Linked DNA regions of Homo sapiens. The protein of the gene in region 3 interacts with the protein of the main gene of each other region in a pairwise test. Each region holds a gene or a part of one and is shown on either strand. Other genes may lie near its edges. The genes, in order: TTPA, TASOR2, SCAMP1 and THAP4.

Region 1 (3,107 bases), on a different chromosome or scaffold from region 3:
TAGTATGCTTTTATTTTAAAATACTTTAAAGTGTTTTTTAGAAAACAGGCAGGGTCCAGTTTTTTTTTTTTTTTTTTTTTTTTTTTTTGAGACGGAGTCTCGCTCTGTCACCCAGGCTGGAGTGCAGTGGCGGGATCTCGGCTCACTGCAAGCTCCGCCTCCCGGGTTCACGCCATTCTCCTGCCTCAGCCTCCCAAGTAGCTGGGACTACAGGCGCCCGCCACTACGCCCGGCTAATTTTTTTGTATTTTTAGTAGAGACGGGGTTTCACCGTTTTAGCCGGGATGGTCTCGATCTCCTGACCTCGTGATCCGCCCGCCTCGGCCTCCCAAAGTGCTGGGATTACAGGCGTGAGCCACCGCGCCCGGCCCAGGGTCCAGTTTTTTAATAAAAATTATAATGTTGTTAGCTTCCCAATACTAAGTCAAAATCAAAACACGTTCTCTAAAGAACAACCACAATTACTTTCAATTTTATCATAGATATATGTATAATCCTAAGTATCAGCTCACCTGATTAAACTAATTTTCTTATAAAGAAAAACACCCTTCACATATCCTTACATAAAGATACTATTAATGTATATGATTAATGTTGAAACCTAACTAGCTGAACAAATGTTCAACAGATTTTGGACCCCATATTCTACATTTTCAAGTTTATAACAAAATTAAGAAATTATAAAATACTAAGTATAAAACTTATGTCATAAATTGAGGGCTATGTTGAATTTGAAAGCTGAGATGATATCTTTCTTAATAAATGAAATATTATAAACTGCAGTAGAAACAGTACATCTTTACCGGTTATTTATTTATTTATTTTTATTTTTATTTTTTAATTTTTTTTGAGAACACATGGACACAGGAAGGGGAACATCACACACCGGGGCCTATTTATTTATTTTTGAAATAGAGACAGGGTCTCCCTGTATTGCCCAGGCTGGTCTAGAACTCCTGCGCTCAAGCAATCATCCATCCAGCCTCGGCCTCCCAAAGTGCTGGGATTACAGGTGTGAGCTGCCACACCCAGTCTTTACCAGATGTTTTTTTAAGTTAATATAAATTGCAGGATTTGATTAAAATATTCTGATACAATAGTCAAACTCATATTATTTTATGCATAATCTGAAAAATACCAGATGTAATTGACAGTAATTTTTTAAAATGTAAACATTTCCTTTCCTTTGTGTAGTTACGTTATTGTTAACTAAAAACAGTCCATGTATAAGACAAGTAAGTATGATTCCATCCCTTTCCGTGTAGTCATAAGAATGACCATAAGCAAAAGTTAAAATTACATTCTTGATTTGTTTAAAAATGCAAAGCAGATATTGAGAAGCCATCAACTGTGCCTGACGTATTTTCTAAATTATTTTTGTTAATCAATTACATCAACATGATTTCACAGAGACCTAAAGATGCCACATAGAGTAGTATGGCATATAGACTCCTCAGCTGAAAGTTTCTATCACGGCCAGGCGCGATGGCTCACGACTGTAATCCCAGGACTCTGGGAGGCCGAAGCAGGCAAATTACTTGAGTTCAGGAGTTTGAGACCAGCTTGGCCAACGTGGCAAAACCCCATCTCTATATAAAATACAAAACTTAGCCAGGAGTGGTGGTGTGCACATGTAATCCTAGCAGAGGTTGCAGTGAGCTGAGATCTCACTACTGCACTCTAGCCTGGGCGACAGAGCAAGACTCTGTCTGAAAAAAAAAAAAAAAGTTTCTATCGTGTTAATATACTAAAATAAAATTTCCCTGAGATGAAATGTCTTGCTGGTCCACAGGAATAACCATAAAACTCTATTCAGATTTTAATTATAATGAATTATAATTTAATCTGACATCCACTTAAAACAAGTGTTAATTTTTTTATCATTAGCTGACTTGTGCTAGTATTTTTAAGCGGAATATTTCTAAATTTTTTTCTAAACCAATTTAATCAGAGAACTTGTTTAAAATATAACTTTCTAGAAACATACAAAGATGCACATGAGCAGCTACTTTAGCAATAACTTTCATGTTCTCTTCAAGTACAAAATCGCCGATTTTTATGCTCTTAAAATGTACTGACATTTAATTACTTCAAAAGTAGAGAAAAAAGCATTTAAAAAGTAAAAAATCTTTCCAAACACCTGTGTTGCTCATGTCAGAAGATTTCTACATTTTTAAAGTTCAGGCAAGCATTAGTTTAAAAGATTTGCTCCTTTTCTTTCATTCATTTAACCAGGTTGGATATCACTCATGTATTTTTAGTTAGGAAGCCATTCACATGACATAACTTCTCATTGAATGCTCTCAGAAATGCTGCTGAGATAATCTTCAGACTTCATTATAAAATTTGTCCATTCCTGACAAATGTCCTCCATGGAGAATTCTTCACCACCATATTCCAGAGGAAGAATGTCTGGGAAATGCTGAAGCAAGCTTTGTTTGTAGTTGTTCCCATGCATGTGAATCTGAAATAGCCAAAACACTTTAGAAGGAAACCGCATTAGATGCATTTCCAGTGGAAAATCAACCTCATAAAACAAGGTATTCTAATAACTTCTAAAATGGAGTGTATAAATAGATACCACATCCTTTATTCCTCTGGTTATGAATCTAATAATTTTACTTATGTTTAGGTTGTATTACTGTGGATCTAATAACCTTACTGTTTCTTGGATTTGCATTCTTATAACTGCATAAAATTTATAAAAAGTTATTTTCCTCTTTCATAAGTAAATTTTTAAAGATTAAATAAAGTTATTTTATAAATTCTATTCCCTTATGTGCAAGTGATTCTTACCAAACTAATACCTTGGGACTATTCTATACACGATAAAAATGTACTAGCTGGTACTAATTCATATTAAGTAGAAGCATATATCTGAGCACACAATTAAATCTATGAGAAACAATTTATATGGTACAGTCGATGGATACTGTTAGTTAGTATAAAGTTAAGAGACAGCCGGGTGCAGTGGCTCATGCCTGTAATCCCAACACTTTGAGAGGCCAAGGCAGGTGGATTACTTGAGCTCAGGAGTTCAACACCAGCCTGGGCAACATGGCTGGTACAAAAAAAATACAAAAATTAGCTGGGCGTGGTGGTGCAGG
Region 2 (6,444 bases), on a different chromosome or scaffold from region 3:
GGTCCAACCTGAAAGGTGCATATTTCAGGCAGATAGATAGGTGTTTGGCATCTTATAACTGCTCACTTTCCTTTTCCTTAGTAATCTGAAAGTAATTCACTGTACTGAATAGTTAATGGTTCCCTTAATAGACTCTTGTCCTTGGAAAAATAAAATGAAATGACTGGGGTTCTATTAGTAACTGAAAAATTGTCAACAATTAAAACTCTAAAACCTACTCATGAGAAAATAAAGCTCTTTTGTTTAGGAATAATAAAAGCCGACTTAATGACTTCTGAAAGAAGTAAGTGTCCCTGTAAAGGCCAGGTGAAACTGCCATTCTTTAACCTGTTACTCGGTGTACTTGACTGCGGAAAGAACCCAGAAACAGAACAGGCCAGGCCCAAAGGATAGAAGTGTAGGTTTCCTCTGGAAGCTTACTGTTCTGCTAAATGACCTAAAAATTGCTAGAACACTCCAGATAAGTCAATTTCTGCTATAAAAATCATTGCAGAAAGAGATTATTTTTAGTTGTCTTTATTTAAAAAATGAAACACATTAGTTACAAAAACCGTTGCTCCAAATAGATACCGTGTATCTTACAAATGTTTTTTGCTTGGTTTTGAGTGTTTACTGTAGAAATTTTCAATATCATAAATAAATGATTATTTCTTTCTCAGAAAGCTGATTTTTGTAGTGTAGTATTTACAAATACCGTAAGTGAAAAATGATAGTTTATAAATTTGTACCATTTAGGAAAAAATGTTTTATGTAGTGTTGTTTGTGTAACAGCAAATAAAACCATTTAAGATTATAGTTTTTACAAGGGTGGTAAAACCTTTAAAACAGAGCATAATGTGCATCGTATGCCTTTCTGACATTAGCATGCAAAAACAAAGCTATTTGTTAAAATAGACTTATTTTTGCTCCAACTAAGTAAACATGTAAAATTATTTTTAATAAGCTCAATAGCTTAGAAGGCATCTTGTTTAAAATGAAAATAATTTAAAACAATATCTAGCACTGCAACCCAAAGCTAACAGACAACTGCAATGCCACTGTGACATATTTCAGCAAAATATAAAAAATGAAAACTTTCCAAGTTGTAGAACATTGGTTTTTCAAATGTAAGACTGTTCACATGTGTATTCACATGTTCACAAGTTTTCCAAAGGGAAAATACTAATTTTTTATTGGCATCATCCATATCCAGGCAGGCTGTAGTTGAGTCACCTGAAGAAACACAAAATTGATAAAGAACTTCTTAAAATAATACGAACAAGAAATATTTTATAAGCGGGATGCTCTAATGGGGAAAACGCCTATGCATTCTAAGGTTACATTATGTTCTGTACTGACGATCCAAGTTAACAGCAAGTGAAAATGCACATTAGATAAAATAGGTAATTTTAGTAGATGGTTACTTCATTTAGTGATAATTTAGGAATTCCTATTTATGCCAAATAGCAATTCCACCCCTAAACAAACACTTTAAATTTATAGCATGAAGTATGTAAACAACAGTTTCCCAACTGTTTCCCTTAGACACAAATGTCAATATTTGCCATCAACAACTCCAACTCACATGGGAAAGTTACATAAAAAGTGTTCTTACCAATAGCTACTCCTAAATGGAGCTGCTATTTTTTCTATGTTTTCTATAAAGTTATTTACATCTGTAACAAGGATTCCACTATTTTCAAAGACTTCTCTGGGGATAGTAGGCTTGTCTGTTAAAAAAAAAAAAAAACAACTTTTGGTTAATATAATTAATGTACTTTTATATAACAGGACCTGGTTTTTTATTTTAAAAAATCTGTGGAACTTCCTCGTGTGAGGGGTAGGGGGAGAAAAGGTGTTGGGTTCCAAATTAAGAAAAGATTTGAAGCTTTGGAAATAGATGCCTCCATCGGGGGTGGTGGTTAAAGTACTGAAAAAAAATCCCTGAAAAATGATAACTATGGTTCTTTACGTAAATTTTTCTTAACACTTTTTTTTTTTTTTTTTTAAAGATAGATAGGGTCTTGTTCTGCCACCCAGGTTACAGTGCAGTGGTGTGATGACGGCTCACTGCAGCCTCGAGCAATCCTTCTGCCTTAACCCAAGTAGCTAGGACTATAGGCACACATCACCACACCTGCCAACTTCTGTAGAGATGAGGTCTCGCTAAGTTGCCCAGGCTGGCCTCAAATTCCTGGGCTCAGTGATCCACCTGCTTCAGCCTCCCAAAGTGCTGGCATTACAGGCGTGAGCCACTGTCCCTGGCTGCCCCACAAATTTTTTAAAAGCAACCTCTGCCTCCGGGGTTCAAGCCATTCTCCTGCCTCGGCCTCCCAAGTAGCTGGGACTACTGGCATGAACCACCACACCTGACTAATTTTTGTATTTTTAGTAGAGATGGGGTTTCACCATGTTGGCTAGGCTGGTCTCTAACTCCTGACCTCAAGTGATCCGCCCGCCTCGGCCTCCCAAAGTGCTGGGATTACAGGTGTGAGCCACTGCACCCAGCCCCAGTATTGATTTAAAAAATAATACGGTATAACTACTTATACTGTATTGAGTATTATAAGTAATCTAGAACTGACTTACATACATAGGAGGATTGTGTAGTTACCTGCAAATACTACATTTTATATAAGGGCTTCAGCTTCAGCAGATTTGGGTGATTCTGGTATCCATGGGATGCCAAGCCATTTAGATACCTGATACTCTTCATCAGGTATCTAACTTTGACATTCCTAGAGCTGACCAATTTTGGCATTAACTGAGTAAAATGCGCCTGTGAATTACCTGTTAGGAGGACAGCAAACCTGGCATCAATATGCTGAATTTGCAGGTTTAGCAAACATTTCAGAATTTCTGCTTTTGTTGATGATCGAGAGTCACACTGGTGATAATGAAGCAATTCAATGATATTTGCACTCTGAAATGACTTCAACATTATGTTCTTCTTATGTGCAGTTGAATCCACTCTGTGAAAGATACATAGGCATATTAAAATATTTTTCAGTTTTATTCTTAGGACTTTTTCTTGCCTTCAGTTTAACCATTCAAACTCATGAGTTCCTCTGCCTTTCTTCTTGACGTTCTTTTTCATGACACACTTTGGTTACCTCAAAACATCACAATTGTACCTACTCCTTTTGTAAATGTGGATTTTAAACATGGGCCTCATTCTAAGAGGGACATCATGCATCTACCTACGACCAATCAAGCCATGTGGCTTGGCAAGCCTTTCATGAATTTCGAGTGGGCCTTATTGCGTTGTATATTTGTAGAGCAATGCACATCTATACTTCTCATACCTTGTGGGCAGATAATCGCCAACTTCATTAAAATTAGGTAGCAGCCAGAATTTTCTTGGTTTCTTGCTTCCCTGAAAATTCTATCACTACTAGGAAAATGTGTTAACTCAGTATGTTTAAATTTTTAGCATTTCTGTCTCTGCTCGACTCCCGTCTCTCTAGTTTTCATCACTTACATTCTCATGCTTGTTGGAGAAAACCCAAATCACACCCATTCCCATAACCCTAGTGATAATCACTCTTAACATCATGAATTAATTTCCTTTCACTTTTTCCTGTATAAATTTTTTATGACATCATACTGAACATAGTTACATGATACCAACTTTTATGCCATCCCTCTTTCTATGAATAGAAACTTTTTACATGCTTCTATTGTGTAAGTTTTGGGTGGGCATTATTTTGTATAAACTTTAAAATATTTAACTGTAGTCTGCATATCTCCCTCCTAGAGATGGAACTGAGGTTGGTTTTGCAATGACTGATAACCACCTAGAATTTTGGGTAAATTCCACAAAAGGTCAAAGGATATGAAGAGTTTTCTAATGAGTTCTCAATAATACATAACGCCTGTTACATAATGCCAGAGTGGTATAATATGAAGAGCATACTGCAGCGCCAACAGCAGTGAGTACGGGCATGTACCACATAATGATGTTTCAGTCAATGACGGACCACATATACAATGGTGGTCCCATAAAATTATACTACTGTAATTTACTGAACCTTTTTTGTGTTTAGACACACAGATACCACCATTGCATTAAATCTGCCTACAGTATTCAGTACAGTCACATGTACAGGTTTGCAATCTAGGAGTAGGCTCTACCATATCAGTTTGTGTAAGTACACTCTATGTCTGCACATAGACAAAATCGTCTTATGACGTTTCTCAGGCTGTATCCCCGTCGTTAAGTGACATGACTTTCTCTACCCAAAGCCCTAGAAGTGCTAGATTGATTTATGCTTATTTTATAGGTGTGCTGTGGTACATCAGAACCTTAAATGTGCTTCTCTACTTACCGAAGTTGACGTTTTTCCCCTCAAGTGCTGGTTACTGAAGTCCGCTGTGAATGGTCATACCCTTGACCTGCTGAAGCCTTTGCACCCTCCTTTCCTGCCAAGGAAACCTCTGTGCTCCTTCTCTCCTTTGCTAGCTCCACTTCAAGAGAAAAGCTTTCTGAGATTCTGTTCCTCAAAGGTCACATACAGCTAACAGTCGTTTCGTCTTTCTGGGATTGAAACCCAGCTTCATAACTTACTACTTGTTTGACCTTGGTCATGTTTGTTATCTACTCTGCTTCAGTTCTGCATTATAAAAGTGAGGATTTGCTATCTAGCTCCTGGGGATGAAGTCTGAATGAAAATGGATGCACCTAACAGTGCCTGAAATCCTTATTTCACAAGGGCTTGTCAGGTCTGCTTTTCCAATTGGTCCTGCTTGTGAGAATGTGGAGGAATCTCTCAGCCCCAGCTCTCTTCAGCCAAGGAATCAAACATGTATTTTTTTCTTTTATAAATTACAGCTTTAGACTTAGTGAAGTTTGCGTATTTATAAGCCTCTTCTTTTAGGGTACAACTGAATTAAGGATAGATTATGGTCTTAATTTTTCCATTCTCCTTAAAGTGGTGGCAACTTATAAGTATCCAAAAAAGCATTAATGGTACAAGTTCCATATATTTTTTAAAGTTTGTAGTAGTAGGGCTTAAATAGAATATGGACATTTCATGACTGCTAAGTTTGACTCCCTTACTTCTGTTAGTCTAGATAAGTACATGCCTCATACTGTTGGCTACGGTCACAGCACATAGCTTCCTTCATTGAATACAGAGCCAGCAGCCCTCATGCTCTTTACTGATGAAGGCCATTCCACTGCAGCACTAGGCTAGAGCCCATGGAACATGAGGCGTTTCTCTGCTACCCCAGCAGGGCAGGAGGAACCATACACACAGCAAGTCCTTACCTTTCATCTTCTTTTAGCTTTTTATTTTCCCTGTAGTGAAGCAACCACTTCCATCTTCCATTTCCATTTAGTTTTTCCAGGATTTTGATAATTTCCTTCAGTTGAACTACAAAACAATAAATGTAGCAAAAGAAGATGACAAGTTTAAGGTACTTTTGGCTCATGCCAAGCCCAGTGATAATTATTTGTAAAACAAGAAAAAAACAGACTAAGACCCATGGTTGAGTACACACCATCACTGTCACTTATGTGGTTGGGCAGCATCCTGCTCTCACAAGCCCCTCAGCCTGGTCCCACCTGCTCACACTATGGTGGGAGATAACTCTGTAGACACGAACACAGTGGAGTGGTCACCAGCAACTAGAGTTCTGTGTACAAATTGTGTGACAGAAGAGAAGCAGGAGGCCCCGATGCAGTAGAGAAATGAAGTTTCTAAATACAGAATCCTTTTTTTTTGAGACAGGGTTTCGGCTGTCACCCAGGCTGGAGTGTGGTGGCATGATCTCAGCTCACTATAGCCTCAACCTCCTGGGCTCAAGTAATCCTCCATCCTTAGTCTCCTTAGCTGGGACTACAGGCACACACTACCACAGCTGGCTAGTATTTTTATTTTTTGTAGAGATGGGATCTCACTATGTTGCCCAGGCTGGTCTTGAACTCCTGATCTCCAGGGATCCTCCTGCCTTGGCCTCCCAAAGTGTTGGGATTACAGACGTGTGCCTACAAATATTTAAAATCCCAGGTTCTGTGTAGAAGTCACACTGGTTAAGGTACATGCTGCTTTTGATCTAGAAGTGGTATCACTTCCAATGTGATCAGAGCCGGGGCAGGTTTTATACATAAAAGTGCCCTGAGAGAAGTAAAGTATGAGTTTTCAAGTAGATGATTAAATAAGCTGACTTAGTAGCCATTTTTTAGATTTTTGTGACATCAAGATGGTAGGGGTGTTGACATCAGAAATGGAGAAGGTTGACTTTAAGCAAACAATTTAATATGGAGCTGCTCTGACTTGGCAAGTGAAGAGACTAAATATAATAAAATCCTGAATTTGTGTTACTAGGAGCTTAGCTGCACTACCGAGAGGGAGGGAACTCAGAAGCAAGTGTGGTGGTAAGAATCAGTTAAAAGAGGTGAAAAGCATTGCTATAAGAGAATCACTGTATGAAAAGAGCACAGCAGACAGCAGAAATTATGCC
Region 3 (7,041 bases):
CTACCTCCCCTTCTGACAGGGTATCAAAATGAGGCTGAGACTACTGTTTGGAATAAAAATGAAACAGAGAGTAAGTGGGAGGTCTGTGCACACAGAGTAAAACTGTTAACGGCTTGACATTTTGTTTCAGTATTCCATGAGTTATTATACTCAAAGTGATGTAAGCATCAGAGCCCCAAACGTATATTCTAATGTTCCGTTCAACAAAATGTCCTGTATTAATTAAGCACTTTCAATAATAAAAGTATCGCAATTGAAAACAAAAAGTAAACTGTACTCAAAGCTATAAAAAGAACACTTAGTTTATGTAATAATTTTATGCCCTTTTAAAAATAGCTAAAACGCCTACATTTAACAGAATTCTTTTAAATGGCCTTCCTCTGCATAAAATTAGTATGCACTATTTTTTCCAAGCAAATCATGTCTAGATAACATCTTTCAAGGAAAAAGAATCTTATAAAATTTTACCCACATGACAGAGAAGTTGTCTTTTCCTCAAAAGAATGCCAGTTCTCAACATACAAGTTTTTCTCAGCCAAGGACTTACATTGTCACATATAGTACAATTCTGAAGTACCTAAATAGGATATGTTTCACTCTGAAATCATGATTATTAAGCTTTATCTATAGAAAAAGAAGACTGGTTTGCTATACTATCCTTGAAATAAAAATGCGGATTTTGACAACAAAAATACAAATTCTAAGCAAAGATGTAAATTGTTGTATACTCACACATCCACAAGTAGTACATAAGCTTTACTGTCTTTTGGAATTCTACAGGAATGTCTACAGAAAAATCCTGATAGAAACAAGGTCCGACAGGAAAATTGCTAGGAAGAGGTGGCCAATTATTTTTTCTACCTGTAAATTTTTTTTAGAAAAAGAAAAGGTTATTTATATTATAACAAATGTGATATTATTTTTTGTTTCATAATAAAGAAAAACTCTATTATGTTAACAAAAGTTCAGAAAAACTGTAGAACTATATCTTTGTATTCCTAGAACTCTGAAAGACAAGCTTTAGATTTTTAAAAAATTTTCTCAGAATATCATCACCTTAGAGCACATTAGATAGTAAAATAATTTTCCAGTGTCATATCATACCATGTTTAGCAGGAACCATTTATGTACAGAAAAAACAAGAAACAAAAAGAAAGCACATATCCAGTGCTTCTACCCTAAAACAGATTTATTTCACAGTCCAAAGAGTCTGGCTGGCATGAAAGGGCCATCCAGTTTTTAAACTTCAATTTTCTCCTCAGCATCTTAAATCTTCAAATATAATTCTGTTATAATTCCTATCTCAAGTGGAGAAAGACTAGCTTCTAATTTTTTCAAGTTTTCTGTTAAGTCCAAGATTAAACCAATACCAAAGAATCAAATTTAGAATACTCAAAATCTGGGAAAAAATAATATCCAAAAGATACATGTACGAAAACCCTACAACAAAGAAAACATGAAACAGTCATGATAAGGAAGCTGAAGAATTATAGAACCTTTAAAAATGCAGAGAAAAACAAATTCAAACTGTAAAGGGAAAAAAATGTGTCTACATAAAGAAACCAGATTAAAAATAAGACTTGAGAAATGGTGGGGGAAATAAAAAATTAAAATAAAGAAGTCAAAACATGAAAATAGCGGGTAAAAACAGCACCTAAGGCCATTTCCCGATTTTAGATGTTATATCCCACAGTTTTTAAAAATTCAATTTTACCTACTTTTCCCAGACCAGGGTAATTTTTATAGAAAGAACAATAACCTATTTCTGATTCTCCCCAATGAGTCTCCTGTGTTCCATTTATCATACTATTCAAATTTCATATAGTTCATTTCTCATACCAATCTCATACTATTTGAGAAGCGGCAGTGAATACTCGTAAAGAAGAGAGGCTCTGGAACCAGAAGTGGCTAGCCACTTACTGGCAAGGTCGCCTTGGGCAACTTACTCTCTCCTCCGAGCCTTAGTTTCCATATCTGTAAAATGAGAATAAAAACTCTATCACCCCTCACAGGATTGTATTGATGATTTAAGTATGAGTTAAGAGGGGAAAAGTACTAAAATGTGCTAACATACTGCAGTCTAATTGTTAATTTCCTACTCTTTGTTACTGTCTTTACTAACATAACTCTCATAGAAATAGTTTGTATTTGCCAGTGCTAAAGAAATAGGATGGATTTTAGTTACAGGTACTTCAGAAACATTGGTCCCAGTTCAACTTTTAGTTTCTCCTTCTATAGATGCTACCTCTGATGCTGCAAGCAAGAAAATGACCCAGGATAAATGTGTTCTCATGAGGCCCTAGACTTACACATTCTAAGTTAAAAAGAAATAGTTCTGTATATTGTTATTGTTCTAGCTTTGCATTGCATCACTATCCCAGACATCCTAACAATGACTTATCTAGCTCTTTTATCTCTTCTTACTCAGAGACTGCTAGCTTTCCCTAAGAGACTCCTTTGAAGTGCTTTGGCAGGCACAAACTTAATAGAATTCACTGCAACAATTCACCACTTATTTCTTTGGCATCATATGAATACCTTAGGCTTCCAATTTTTCTAACATGATTTGACAAAATACTTGCGAGGACTGGGGCAGATAATCTGAAATTAACCTGAATAAATCAGGTAAAAGTCAAATGTAGGGTACATGCAAATGTACTCATAAAGAGTCCACAGAACCAAGGAGGGCCTAACTGCAGAATCAAAGGCTCCTGGCCTCAGAGTAAGCAAAAATTATCATATTCACATTCATTTTCTGTGTGATGAGGCTAACACTGTTCTAAGCTATCAACAAAAGACTATGCAAATCAGCCAAGATTAGAAGGCTACAGAGTATCAAACAGGCAATCTGCTGTGTCTGATCTCCTTGTTAGAACAGGAAAACAGGGTAGGGTTTTATCCACAGGCCAAATGACCTAGGAGCTAGTATAGACATAATGTAAAGTATTTAAAAGTTATTTTTATTTCAAATTTCTTTGGATACTACCATGTTGACTGAGGTTTTGCATTTCTCGTTCCCGACGATCTAATTCTGCGGCTTTTCTTTCTAGTTCTTCCTGGCGCTTAAGAAGTTCAGCTTGGGCCAATGCATGTTCCTAAATAAAAAATATCAATATGTGAATAGACTGTCAGAAGTATAAAATACTTTAACATTTATATGCTAACTCCTACTTCTCTACTATGAGAGAAACCTAATTCAAACACACTTCCAAAGTACAGGAATTTACTGAAGATCATAGTTACAGAAAATATTATGAGGATATTTGGTCCATTTGGTCTTTGGGTTCCAGAAACTCTCAGTGGGAATGTTGGGTCCATTAGGAGAGGAAAACTTCTCTTAGTAAAAGTAGTCACAATCTTTAGGTAATCTGGAAAATGAAATTAAGATGACCTCTATGCCTAAATGAGTGAAGAACAGAGGCAATGGGAACAGTTGAGGAAAATGAACAATAGAAAAAAGGGCAACTGAATTGGCTCCTATTAATCAGATTAAATGATATATAAGGCCACCAATGCAAGAATATTTTCTAATATCTTAAATGTTATAGGAGAATGAGGTCAAAAGATGTGATTAAGAAATTCTTTATAACTCAATTTGCCCTTACATGCTATCAGGCATCTTATTAATCTCCTTTCTTCTCAGATTTTTGCCATCTTCTACCTCCTAACACTGTTATTTTACCATTGCAACGCTCTCCCAATAATATCTATTATTCCATCATTTTTACCTTAATGGTAGTGTGCATTAAAAAGTGGGACCAAAGGCAATAAAAATTTATCCACTGAGATGATACATAAATTCAATAATTCCTAATAATGGAATAAAGCAAATGGTATAAGCTGACAAAAAGAGGAATGAGTATTTGAAGGGTGACAAGACAGCAAATCCAGACTTGAAAGTGAGTTAAAAATTAAGCAACAGAAATGTAACCATATAAAGATTTATTTTGCTCTGAAAGCAAATGTTATTGATATTATAATGGCCAATATGAATTTATACAACTAACATGAACTAACCTTTGCAATCTGTGTATAAGCTGGATGTTCCTCTGTTGGTTTCATTATTGCTGGTTGTGTATTGGGTACATTAGGCATCTTCACACCGCCTGGTGGAGGCTAGGAGGATTAAGAGAAGGAAAATTATGTAACACAGAGATCCAACTTTAACTTCTTTCAAAAAGTATAACACCAATAAAATGAAAAATCCCAAAATCTGCATCTCTTCATTCCCTGCTCTCTCATAGTCAAGTGTGTGGCAAAGAGCTGCTTAAATTCTCCATCTCCATTTTCTCCAACTCATTCATTTTTCAACTCTACAATCAGACTGCTACTTATAACACTATATGACAAACACTCTCCTCCAGGATACCGTATGTTAATAGAGGCCAGGCATGGTGGCTCATGCCTGTAATCCCAGCACTTTGGGAGGCCAAGGCGTGTAGATCACCTAAGTCAGGAGTTCAAGACCAGCCTGGCCAATATGGTGAAACCCCGTCTCTACTAAAAATACAAAAATTAGCCGGGTGTGGTGGCGGGCACCTGTAATCCCAGCTACTTGGGAGGCTGAGGCAGGAGAATCACTTGAACCGGGGAGGTGGAGGCTGCAGTGAGCCAAGACTGTACCACTGCACTCCAGCCTGGGCAACAGAGCAAGACTCCATCTCAAAAAAAAAAAAAAAGAACTTTTGAGTTTAATAGTAAAATACAGATAGAACCAGACAAAAGAACTACACCAAGGTTTACTGCCAACTCTTCCCTCTTGAGAAAGCTACATGCCAGTGCTCTGAAGAGTATACAGGAAAGTTCTTGGTAGAACCCCACTAAATTTAAAAGAGTAAAAGGGAAGGCGTAAGGAGAGAGAAAATAAATTACCCAACTTCCACTTTGCCAGTGAGGATCAGTAGTGTCTGAAAGCTGCAAGATCAGGAAGTAGACATCTACAAGTCCATCAATGGGGGATTGGTTAAATTACTGTATATACATACAATGCAGCCATGAGAATAAATTAGCGATAGAAGAATGTCTTTTAAAATACTAAATAAAATAAAGCAAGCTGGCCGGGCGCAGTGTCCTATGCTTGTGATCCCAGTACTTTGGGAGGCCGAGGCAAGTGGATCACAAAGTCAGGAGTTCGAGACCAGCCTGGCCAATATGGTGAAACCCCATCTCTCCTAAAAATACAAAAATTAGCCAGGTGTGGCGGCGGGCGCCTGCAGTCCCAGCTACTTGGGAGGCTGAGGCAGAAGAATCGCTTGAACCCGGGAGGCGGAGGTTGCAGTGAGCTAAGATCGCACCACTGCACTCCAGCCTGGGAGACAGAGCAAGACTCCATCTCAAAAAATAATAATAATAATAAAATAAAAATTAAATTAAAAAATAAAGCAAGCTACAGAACAGTCTGTATATGACCTTTTTTTCAACAGACACAGATTTATACATGCCCCCATAAAATATCTGGGAAGTCTCGGCCACCTGATATCAGACGGACTTGCACCTGTTGTTTTATATGCCTCTGTATTATTTGCTTCCCTCGACACATGCACCATATACTACTTTAATAAAAATATATTTTTAAAGTACTCTTTAGAATGACCATAAGAAAAAAACAAAAAACAAGGATGGGAACATGAAAAGAACAATAGAAGCAAAAACAGTAACAGAAAAGAAAAGAAGAAAGGAAAGAAAGAGAAGAGGGAGGGAAGGGGGAGGTCATAAATAAGAAAAATATAAAAAAGAAAGAAGCTGCACAAGGACGTTCAAGGATCTTAAGAACTATTAAAACCAGAAGACACCACCAATATATAGCAGGATTTTACTCTGACACAGCTAACAGCAGCCCTGAAAAGGAAGCCACGCATAACCAAAGATATAACTGTAGTTCAGCTGATTCTAAAATGCATATACAAAAGGCAAGAACCGGCTGGGTGCAGAGGCTCACACTTGTAATCCCAGCACTTTGGGAGGCCAAGGTGGGCAGATCGCCTGAGCTCAGGAGTTCGAGACCACCCTGGGCAACATGGTGAAACCTCGTCTCTACTAAAATACAAAAAATTAGACAGGCATGGTGGTGTGCACCTGTAGTCCCAGCTACTGGAGAGGCTGAGGCATGAGAATCGCTTGAGCCTGGGAGGCAGAGGTTGCAGTGAGCCCAGATTATGCCACTGCACTCCAACTTGGGCTACAGAGTGAGAGTCTATCTCAAAAAAAAAAAAAAGGCAGGAACTAAAAACAGGTCAAACCATTTTGAAGAAAAACAAAGTAGGAAGACCTATGATATCAAGGCTTATTATAGAACCACAGTAATTAAGAGTGTAATACAGATGCAAGGACAGAGAAGTGTACCAATAAACAAAACAGACACAGAAACAAACCCACACAAATGCAGAAACTTGATATCTAACAGAGGTGTCACTACAAAACAGTGAAGAAACAATGTGTTAATCAATAAACGGTGCCTGGATAACTGGTTACTCATATAGGAAAAAAAAACATTTCTTACTTCGCATCATATACAAAGATTAATTCGAGGTAAATTCATGATCTAAAACTGAAAAAGCAAAACTTAAACACTTTCAGGGAAAAATACATGTGAATATTTTTATGAATATTTCTTGAGCTTCTAGAATATGAACTCTAGAAATACTGTGTATTTTGTTTATGACCTATCCCAAGTACCCAAAATAGTCCCTGAAACAGTAGATGCTCAGTAAGTATCTGTCAAATTAAGAATGGAAAACACACACCACACAAAATTGACGAATTTAATTACACTGAAATTTACAAAAAGTAAAAAGTCAAATCATGGACTAGGAAAAGATAGTTGTAATGCATATAACAGAAAATTGCTACCCAGAATATATAAAGAATTGTTACAAATCCATGAAAATACAAACTAATCGAAAAACTAGCAAAAGATCTGAACAAGCAATAGAAAGAGGTCAATAAACATGTGAAAAGAGGTGTAACAGCACTAGTAATCAAGAAGTGCAAAAACAATCATATATCATTTCAAAACCATGAGATAGAAAAACAAACTCTGAC
Region 4 (7,041 bases), on a different chromosome or scaffold from region 3:
AAGTATCATTTTTACCACTCTGTGTCTCAGTTGCACATTCAGGCAAGAGGACACCTTTCTGAAATAGATGGACAAGTTCCTTTTACACCTTCCTGCTTGGCCTTTGTCTTTGATCAGTCTGGAATTATTTTCAGAGACCTAGGCGGCCCATGAGTCAAGCAGGGTGGGGTGGAGGGAGACAACTTACGAGAAGTTCAGCATGGGCTGGCCCACGTGGGAGATGTGAACCTCCTCCAGGTACTGGAAGGGCTGCAGTGTGGGGTAGGTCCCGGCTCCAGGTGGGTCCGACAGCCAGGTGCCCAGCATCCAGGACAGTGGCTCCACCACTGGGTTCATCTTGGGGGGCTCTGAGGACAAAAGAATGAGACTATCAGTGGCCTCCCTCCAACCATGCCTTGCTGAGCTTTAAGCAGAATGCACGTTCCATATCGACGCTTGCTTCTGGTGGCCACAGCTAATCCTGGGGGACCTGTCAAGAGCGGGAGAAAATGGTCAAGCAACTGTAAATGTCATAGTGAAAGATCCAGCTTCAGAAGCCTCTGCAGTTCCTGCAGAGAAAAGAGATCCAACAGGGGCCAGGCAGGGCGCAAGCAAAGAGGCCTACACTGCTATCTCCCTAAAAGCAGGCAATTTCTCCACCTGTGGGGTGCAGGTGGTGGGAAGGGATACTGAGGGACCTCAAGGGGCTTTTGCTTTCTTGTACAGTTAAGAATATGAGAACCACATACTAACAGCTTCCTTGTGACCCCAAATAGCTCAGGGGTCCTCCATGTCCTACAGCAAGGCTGAAAGCAGCTCACACGGGAGGCACGGTGCCCTGGCGTGAAGAGTGTGTGAAGGAGACAAAGAGCATCAGGGAGAAAATGAAAGGGGATGCAGGGTCTCGGAGCAGCCAGAGTGTGAGGGCCCAGGGGCAGGCGGGGTTTAAAAGGGAAGTAAGACCCCGCTTCCCTGAGGAGGGGCTGGGGCTTCACAGCAGCCTGTGTAGTGGCCAGGAGACCCCTTTAGAAGGTCTCCTGTGGGGTTCAGTCTCTCATCCCACTAAGTGTGAAGGATGACACCACAGGCCTGGAACTCAGAGGTGGGGGTGCAGTGACAGGACAGCAGGGAGGGGCCGCTGGGTTGGCTGTTCTGCTGGGCGAACTCAAAGGGACCCCTGCTTCCTGCCTCGCTCAGCAAGGACTGGGTGCTCCCGAGCGGCTTTTCAGGATTCACTCACATGACCCTCACCCTGGCTGGATGCACGGGCCCTGCTCTTACTCATTTTCTAAGGGAGACCTGTGCGGGGACCACAGGAAAGCCCCACTGCATGCTACCCATCAGGGGCGCTGGAAGAGAAGGACTGATCCCCAGAGGCAATCCCAAAGACCTGCTTCCCAGGCCTGCTTAACCCTCAAGTCTCAGTGCTTCAATTGACAGAACGGACACTGACACCCAGGAGCAGCAGCAGGGACAGAAGCAGCTCTGTGGCCGCACAAGCCTCATCTACGGAGCCCAAAGATGCCCAAGCACAGAGACCGGCCTGCACATCAGGACTGACCCCCGGCGTCTCCTCCAGGCCCGCGCAAGCAGAAGACGGACTGACGGGGACAGGATCAGGACTGACCCCCAGTGTCTCCTCCAGGCCCGCGCAAGCAGAAGACGGACTGACGGGGACAGGATCGGACTGATGCCCAGTGTCTCCTCCAGGCCCGCGCAAGCAGAAGACGGACTGATGGGGACAGGATTGGACTGACCCCCAGTGTCTCCTCCAGGCCCGCGCAAGCAGAAGACAGCTGACGGGGACAGGATCAGGACTGACCCCCGGCGTCTCCTCCAGGCCCGCAAAAGCAGAAGACAGACTGATGGGGACGGGATCAGGACTGACCCCCAGTGTCTCCTCCAGGCCCGCGCAAGCAGAAGACGGACTGACGGGGACAGGAGTTCTTGGAACCATCGCAGCTTCTGAAATTACACAACCTTTGGATTATAAATTCCAGGAAGTCTGGGAAAAGAAGATCGGGGGAAAGGAAAGCAAAGGCTCTGGGGGTGGAGGAGACCACGTCCAAGAACAGCTTGGAACCAAGGAGGGCCGCACATGTGGCCTGGCCCAGTGGCCGAGCCCTGGGGCCCAGAGTGAGAACCGAGGGTGGAGAGCAGGTAATGAGCACTCTGCCTGCTGGCTGCACAGGGCAAACATAGGTGACCTGAAGCAGGAGAGTGGGAGAGTCCGCTCCTTTTCCAGACTGGCCTGTGGTCTTTCAGTATTTCCTTTTTTGTTTTTCTTAAATGATGATTTAAAAATTTTTTATATCAGTATTTCCTCCTCAGACTCCCGGTGAAAAGTGGGAAGGTGAGGATGGGAATATTTGGACTTCAATAAAACTTTCCTAATTAGACAATAAGAGAATTTTTAAATCAAGATTTTCGTTGCAATCTTTCACGGAGATAAGGAATAGAAGCTTCTGAATCCAATGTGTGGCCTCTGGAACGAGGCTTGTGATCTATCATAGCTGATCAATTCTTTCATCATTCAACGTGCTGGACACTCTTCCAGGGAGAAGCTGACGGAACAGTCATACATCCCTACGGAGCATACATCCTAGCGAGGGCAGACAATACACAAGAAATGAGTGAATGATGCAGAACTGAATGTACATTAGGAGATGAGGCAGAAAGGGAGACAGGGCTGTTGGGGCACTGTGAAAACCTACCCAAAAGGGACAAGGACACCCTCCCTGAGAAGTGTGCACAGACCAGGCAGGGGATCAGGGTCCCTGCAGCTACCCTGGAGAAGAGCAGACCAGGTGGAAGTGCCAGAGACGGAGGTCCTGGGTACGTAGGCCTGGTCTTGCTGGAGAGGAACAGGAGGCCAGTGTGGCCAGGGGAAGGAGATCCTCACCCCTCGGAAGGGCCGTGACCTTGACTCTGAGCAGACAGAAGCCCTCGAGAAGGCTGAGTGGGAGGGACGAGGTCTCTGACTGCAACCACAGGAAGCCAGGGAGGGCAATGGCAAAAACCCTTGTGGCAGAGGAGGGTGGCCTGGGCCAGGTGGCCGTGGTGGAGGCAGTGGAAAGGACCTAGCTTCTGGATCTATCTTGAAGGCAGAGCCACCCGGATGTGCTGATGGTTTGGATGTGAAACACGTAAGAAAAGATGGTAACGGAGGTTTCTGGCCTGAGCAATTGAGAAGACAAGTTACCATTAATGGAGAAAAGGAAGAATGAGAAGAACCTTGGGAGGTGTGAAACAGCAAAACTCAGTCACCTGGGATAGCCCAAGTCCTAAGATGGGCTAAACAAACACCATAATTTCTCAGACAGCCAGCTATAGCCTTGGAGACCTTTCAGTTTGGTAGACTTTATCCAGCTCAGCACTGAAAAGAAAGAGGCTTTGGGCCGGGCGCAATGGCTCACTGAACCTGTAATCCCAGCACTTTGGGATGCCGAGACGGGCAGATCACCTCAGGTCAGGAGTTTGAGACCAGCGTGGCCAACGTGGTGAAACGCTGTCTCTATTAAAAATACAAAAATTAGCCGGGCGTGGTGGCACACGCCTGTAATCCCAGTTACTCGGGAGGCTGAGGTACAAGAATTGCTTGAACCCGGGAGGCGGAGGTTGCAGTGAGCCGAGGTCGTGTCACTGCTCTCCAGCCTGGGCGACAGAGACGTTTTCTCAAAAAAAAAAAAAGAAAGAAAGAGGCTTTGCAAACCTCAGGTTTTTGGGCCGGCTCTCTGGCCTGTGCGGAGCACACCCCACAGCGACTGCCACGGGGCTCTGGCTCTCCTGGGACCGGGTGGACCCACTTCCACTGGTGAGCGCAGCCTGCATGGGAGCTGAACCCTGTGGGAAGCGGCACCCCGGGCGCTGGGGAGCAGCGATCCAGAGTCCAGGTTCTGAGCTGCTGCACCGGGGCCGCGATCTCCACCCCTCACGCCCGAGTCCCCGGCACGGCCACCACCGGCCCCTGGGTCCCGAGGGCCCCGAGGAAGAGGCCAAGGGGCCTGGCGGCGCCCCCCAGGGTCCCAGTGGAACAGGGGCACCAGGGCCGCGGCGCCGGGCATGGCCTTCACACTCCCCACGAGGCAGGACAGCCCCGGGCTAGGGTGAGGGGCACGCGCCGCAAGTCCTGCCTCTGCTCCCGGGCGGCCCCCTCCAGCCTCCGCCGGCCCCGCCCCGGAAGCGCAGCCCCGCCTCAGGCGCCGCATCTCCGCCCTCTCTTGCGCCTGCGGGACCGGGAGGGCCGCGCTCGCCCCCCAGCGCCAGGGTCACGCCACCGCGCCCTGTTTGGGGAGCGGCAGAGGAGTCAGGGCGGAGGCTGGGCGGCGCTGGGCGGTGGGGCGCGCTCACTGGCTGCCACCTCACCTAGCAGGCGTCACAGGGCTCACTCAAGAGCTCCAGCAAGAGCAGAGGCGGGAGCCTCGCCAGCCCCTCCACAGACCACAGCGACCGCGCCCCTCGGCCCGGAGGCCCCGCCCTCCCCACTCCTGCTTCCCCAGCCACGGGGTCTTCTCCCGGCCCCTCATCTACTTGGCAGACGCCTCTCACCGGCAGCCTCTGCCTCCCCCTGGTCTTTCCCTCCCACCACCCACCGTGGAGTCCTCTCCGGGAGGCCCTGTCCTCCATCCAGCGCTCCTCAGAGGGGACCGGAGAGGAGGCGCTCCTTAAATGGGGAAGAAAGACGGACAGAGCCAGGGACAGCGAGAGACGGGACGGGGACAGAGACACAGAGACAGAGAGACAGGGCCAGAGAGACACGGGGATGGGGCCAGAGACGGGGCCAGAGACAGAGACACAGAAAGGGATCTTACTCTTTCTTCCCTTAAAACCAGCTTCTGGGGGTCTCCGAGGGGGACTCTCAGGTAAGTAACAATATTATCACCTTCCCTCCCAAGAATTAAAAAAAACAAAAATAACGAAAAAACCTTTTCCCTGAACTTGATTTTGAGGGAAAATAGGTCACAGATACAACCCACAGCCACCAAAACACACATACGGATGCTGTGAGAAGTGGTGGGTCAGTGCCTCGCTGGAGGACAGGAGGGGCCTCTGGGAGCTGGGGGGGTGGCCCCTGAGAAGCCTCAGGGTCTGGCCTGGCTCAGAGGCCTGGGGCGGAGTGGGGAGCCCTGGACTTGGGAAGCCTGGAGGCTCTTCTGGCCCCCGCTCTGCCACAGGGAGCTCCTGCAAACAGCAGGCCCAGGGCACCCCACGCGTCTGCCCAGGACACCCCAGGTGTTCGCCCAGGTGCTGAAGGCCCAGGCTGGCCTCCATGCAGGGTTACCCACCACCCGCCATAGAGAAGTAATGCGCCACTCCGAAAGAAAGGGGTGCTGCCGGCTGGACGCAGTGGCTCACGCCTATAATCCCAGCACTTTGGGAGGCCAAGGCGGGTGGATCATCTGAGGTCAGGAGTTCGAGACCAGCCTGGCCAACATGGTGAAATCCCATCTCTACTAAAAATATAAAAAACTAGCCGGGCGTGGTGGCGGGTGCCTGTAGTACCAGCTACTAGGGAGGCTGAGGCAGGAGAATGGCATGAACCCCGGAGGCACAGGTTGCAGTGAGCCGAGATTGTGCCACTGCACTCCAGCCTGGGTGACAGGGTGAGACTCTGTCTCCAAAAAAAAAAAAAAAAAAATTAAGAAAGAAAGGCATGCTGCTCCTGAAGACCTTCTGCTTCTCCAGCAATGGACTAATGGACTCTAAGACACTGCCTGAGTTCAGAGATGGACAAAAGGTGACAAGACACCAAGTGTGAACAAGAGCAGCAAAACATACAAACTGCAAAATGTTGATGGGGCAAAGGTGAAACTAAGAGAAAGGGTCTTGCTCAGTCACCCAGGCTGGAGTGCAGTGGCATGAATACGGTTCACTGCGGCCTAGACCACTGGGGCTCAAGTGATTCTCCCGCCTCAGCCTCCCGAGTAGTTGAATGAAGCTGCTCCATGAAGAAAGACCACTAACTAAACATGTAAGAACTCAGGAGAGAAACGGCAAGGAAAGAGGAGAAGGTGAAACATGACCTGGCAGAAGTCGAGAAAGTAAAAGAAAAAAAATCAAGCCACCACCCAAATGAAGTGGAGATTGGAAGCAGCACAGGGAGAAACAAACACCGGGAAACACAGCGGAACACAGAGGACAGAAATGAGTTAAAAAAAAAGACAAAAGATAGAGAAATGGAAACAAAGTTAGAAGGACGGGAACGCCTGGCACACTGCTGATGGGGACGTGAACTGGCACAGCCTAGTGAAGACCATCTGGCATGTGCCTGAGAGGTTAAGTGTGGAGCAGTGGCCCAGGACTGCCACTCCTGGAGACATGCACTCCCAGCAGAAATGACACACCTGTCCCCACAGGACGCTGCCCATGAATGTTTACAGCAGCACCATTCCCAACAGCCCCAAAGTGGAAACAACACAGATGTCCGTCAACCAATGAGTAAACAAACTGCAGTATATCCAGACAATGGAATGTTATTTGGCCATAAAAATGAAGCACTAATATAAGCTGCAATTCAAATGGCCCTTGACAACACACCATATGAAAGCAATCAGGCTCAAAAGAGCACATATTCTGCAATTCCATTTCTGTGAAAGGTGCAGAACACACACATCTACAGAGACAGAACGTGGGTCAGTGTTTCTCCACAGCTGCGTTCTGTGGCAGAAGACGCTAGAGTCACACGTAGAAGGCGCATGAGGAGGGAAGGTGAGTGGCAAGGATGCTACGGCTGGCCACAGCGATCCTTCCAGATTGCAGGCGCGTGAGCTGGCTCACTGACACGTGCAGTGAGTGCGAGCTACAAACTAGATTCCGAAAACTCAGTCCAAAAAGTCTTCAAATAATTCAATAATCTTATAGTATGGGTGGTTGCCTGTTGAAATAATTTTTAGATAATATCGGGTTAAATAAAATATATTATTAAAATCGATTTCACTTGTTTCTTTTTACCTTTTTAATGTAGCTATTAGAAAATATTAAACTACATAAGAGACTCACTCTCTAGACCTTTTCGACAGTGCAGGAATGGAGTTTTCAACCCTTGGCACCCAAGGAGCTTTG

What was found.
Region 1: the proteins of SCAMP1 (region 3) and TTPA interact in binary tests that used the Homo sapiens proteins (3 or more experiments, as listed by UniProt).
Region 2: the proteins of SCAMP1 (region 3) and TASOR2 interact in binary tests that used the Homo sapiens proteins (3 or more experiments, as listed by UniProt).
Region 4: the proteins of SCAMP1 (region 3) and THAP4 interact in binary tests that used the Homo sapiens proteins (3 or more experiments, as listed by UniProt).

What each region holds. Positions count from the first base shown.
Region 1 is NC_000008.11:63,058,962-63,062,068, forward strand, and holds the end of TTPA (alpha-tocopherol transfer protein), read right to left. Parts: coding exon of another isoform or gene 3,030-3,107; exon of another isoform or gene 2,465-3,029; coding exon 2,291-2,464; 3' UTR 527-2,290; downstream 1-526.
Region 2 is NC_000010.11:5,757,797-5,764,240, reverse strand, and holds the end of TASOR2 (protein TASOR 2), read right to left. Parts: intron 5,355-6,444; coding exon 5,249-5,354; intron 2,952-5,248; coding exon 2,770-2,951; intron 1,710-2,769; coding exon 1,595-1,709; intron 1,213-1,594; coding exon 1,209-1,212; 3' UTR 501-1,208; downstream 1-500.
Region 3 is NC_000005.10:78,412,595-78,419,635, reverse strand, and holds part of SCAMP1 (secretory carrier-associated membrane protein 1), read right to left. Parts: intron 4,117-7,041; coding exon 4,018-4,116; intron 3,096-4,017; coding exon 2,987-3,095; intron 862-2,986; coding exon 733-861; intron 1-732. UniProt on the Homo sapiens protein: Functions in post-Golgi recycling pathways. Acts as a recycling carrier to the cell surface.
Region 4 is NC_000002.12:241,606,127-241,613,167, forward strand, and holds part of THAP4 (peroxynitrite isomerase THAP4), read right to left. Parts: intron 348-7,041; coding exon 188-347; intron 1-187. UniProt on the Homo sapiens protein: Heme-binding protein able to scavenge peroxynitrite and to protect free L-tyrosine against peroxynitrite-mediated nitration, by acting as a peroxynitrite isomerase that converts peroxynitrite to nitrate.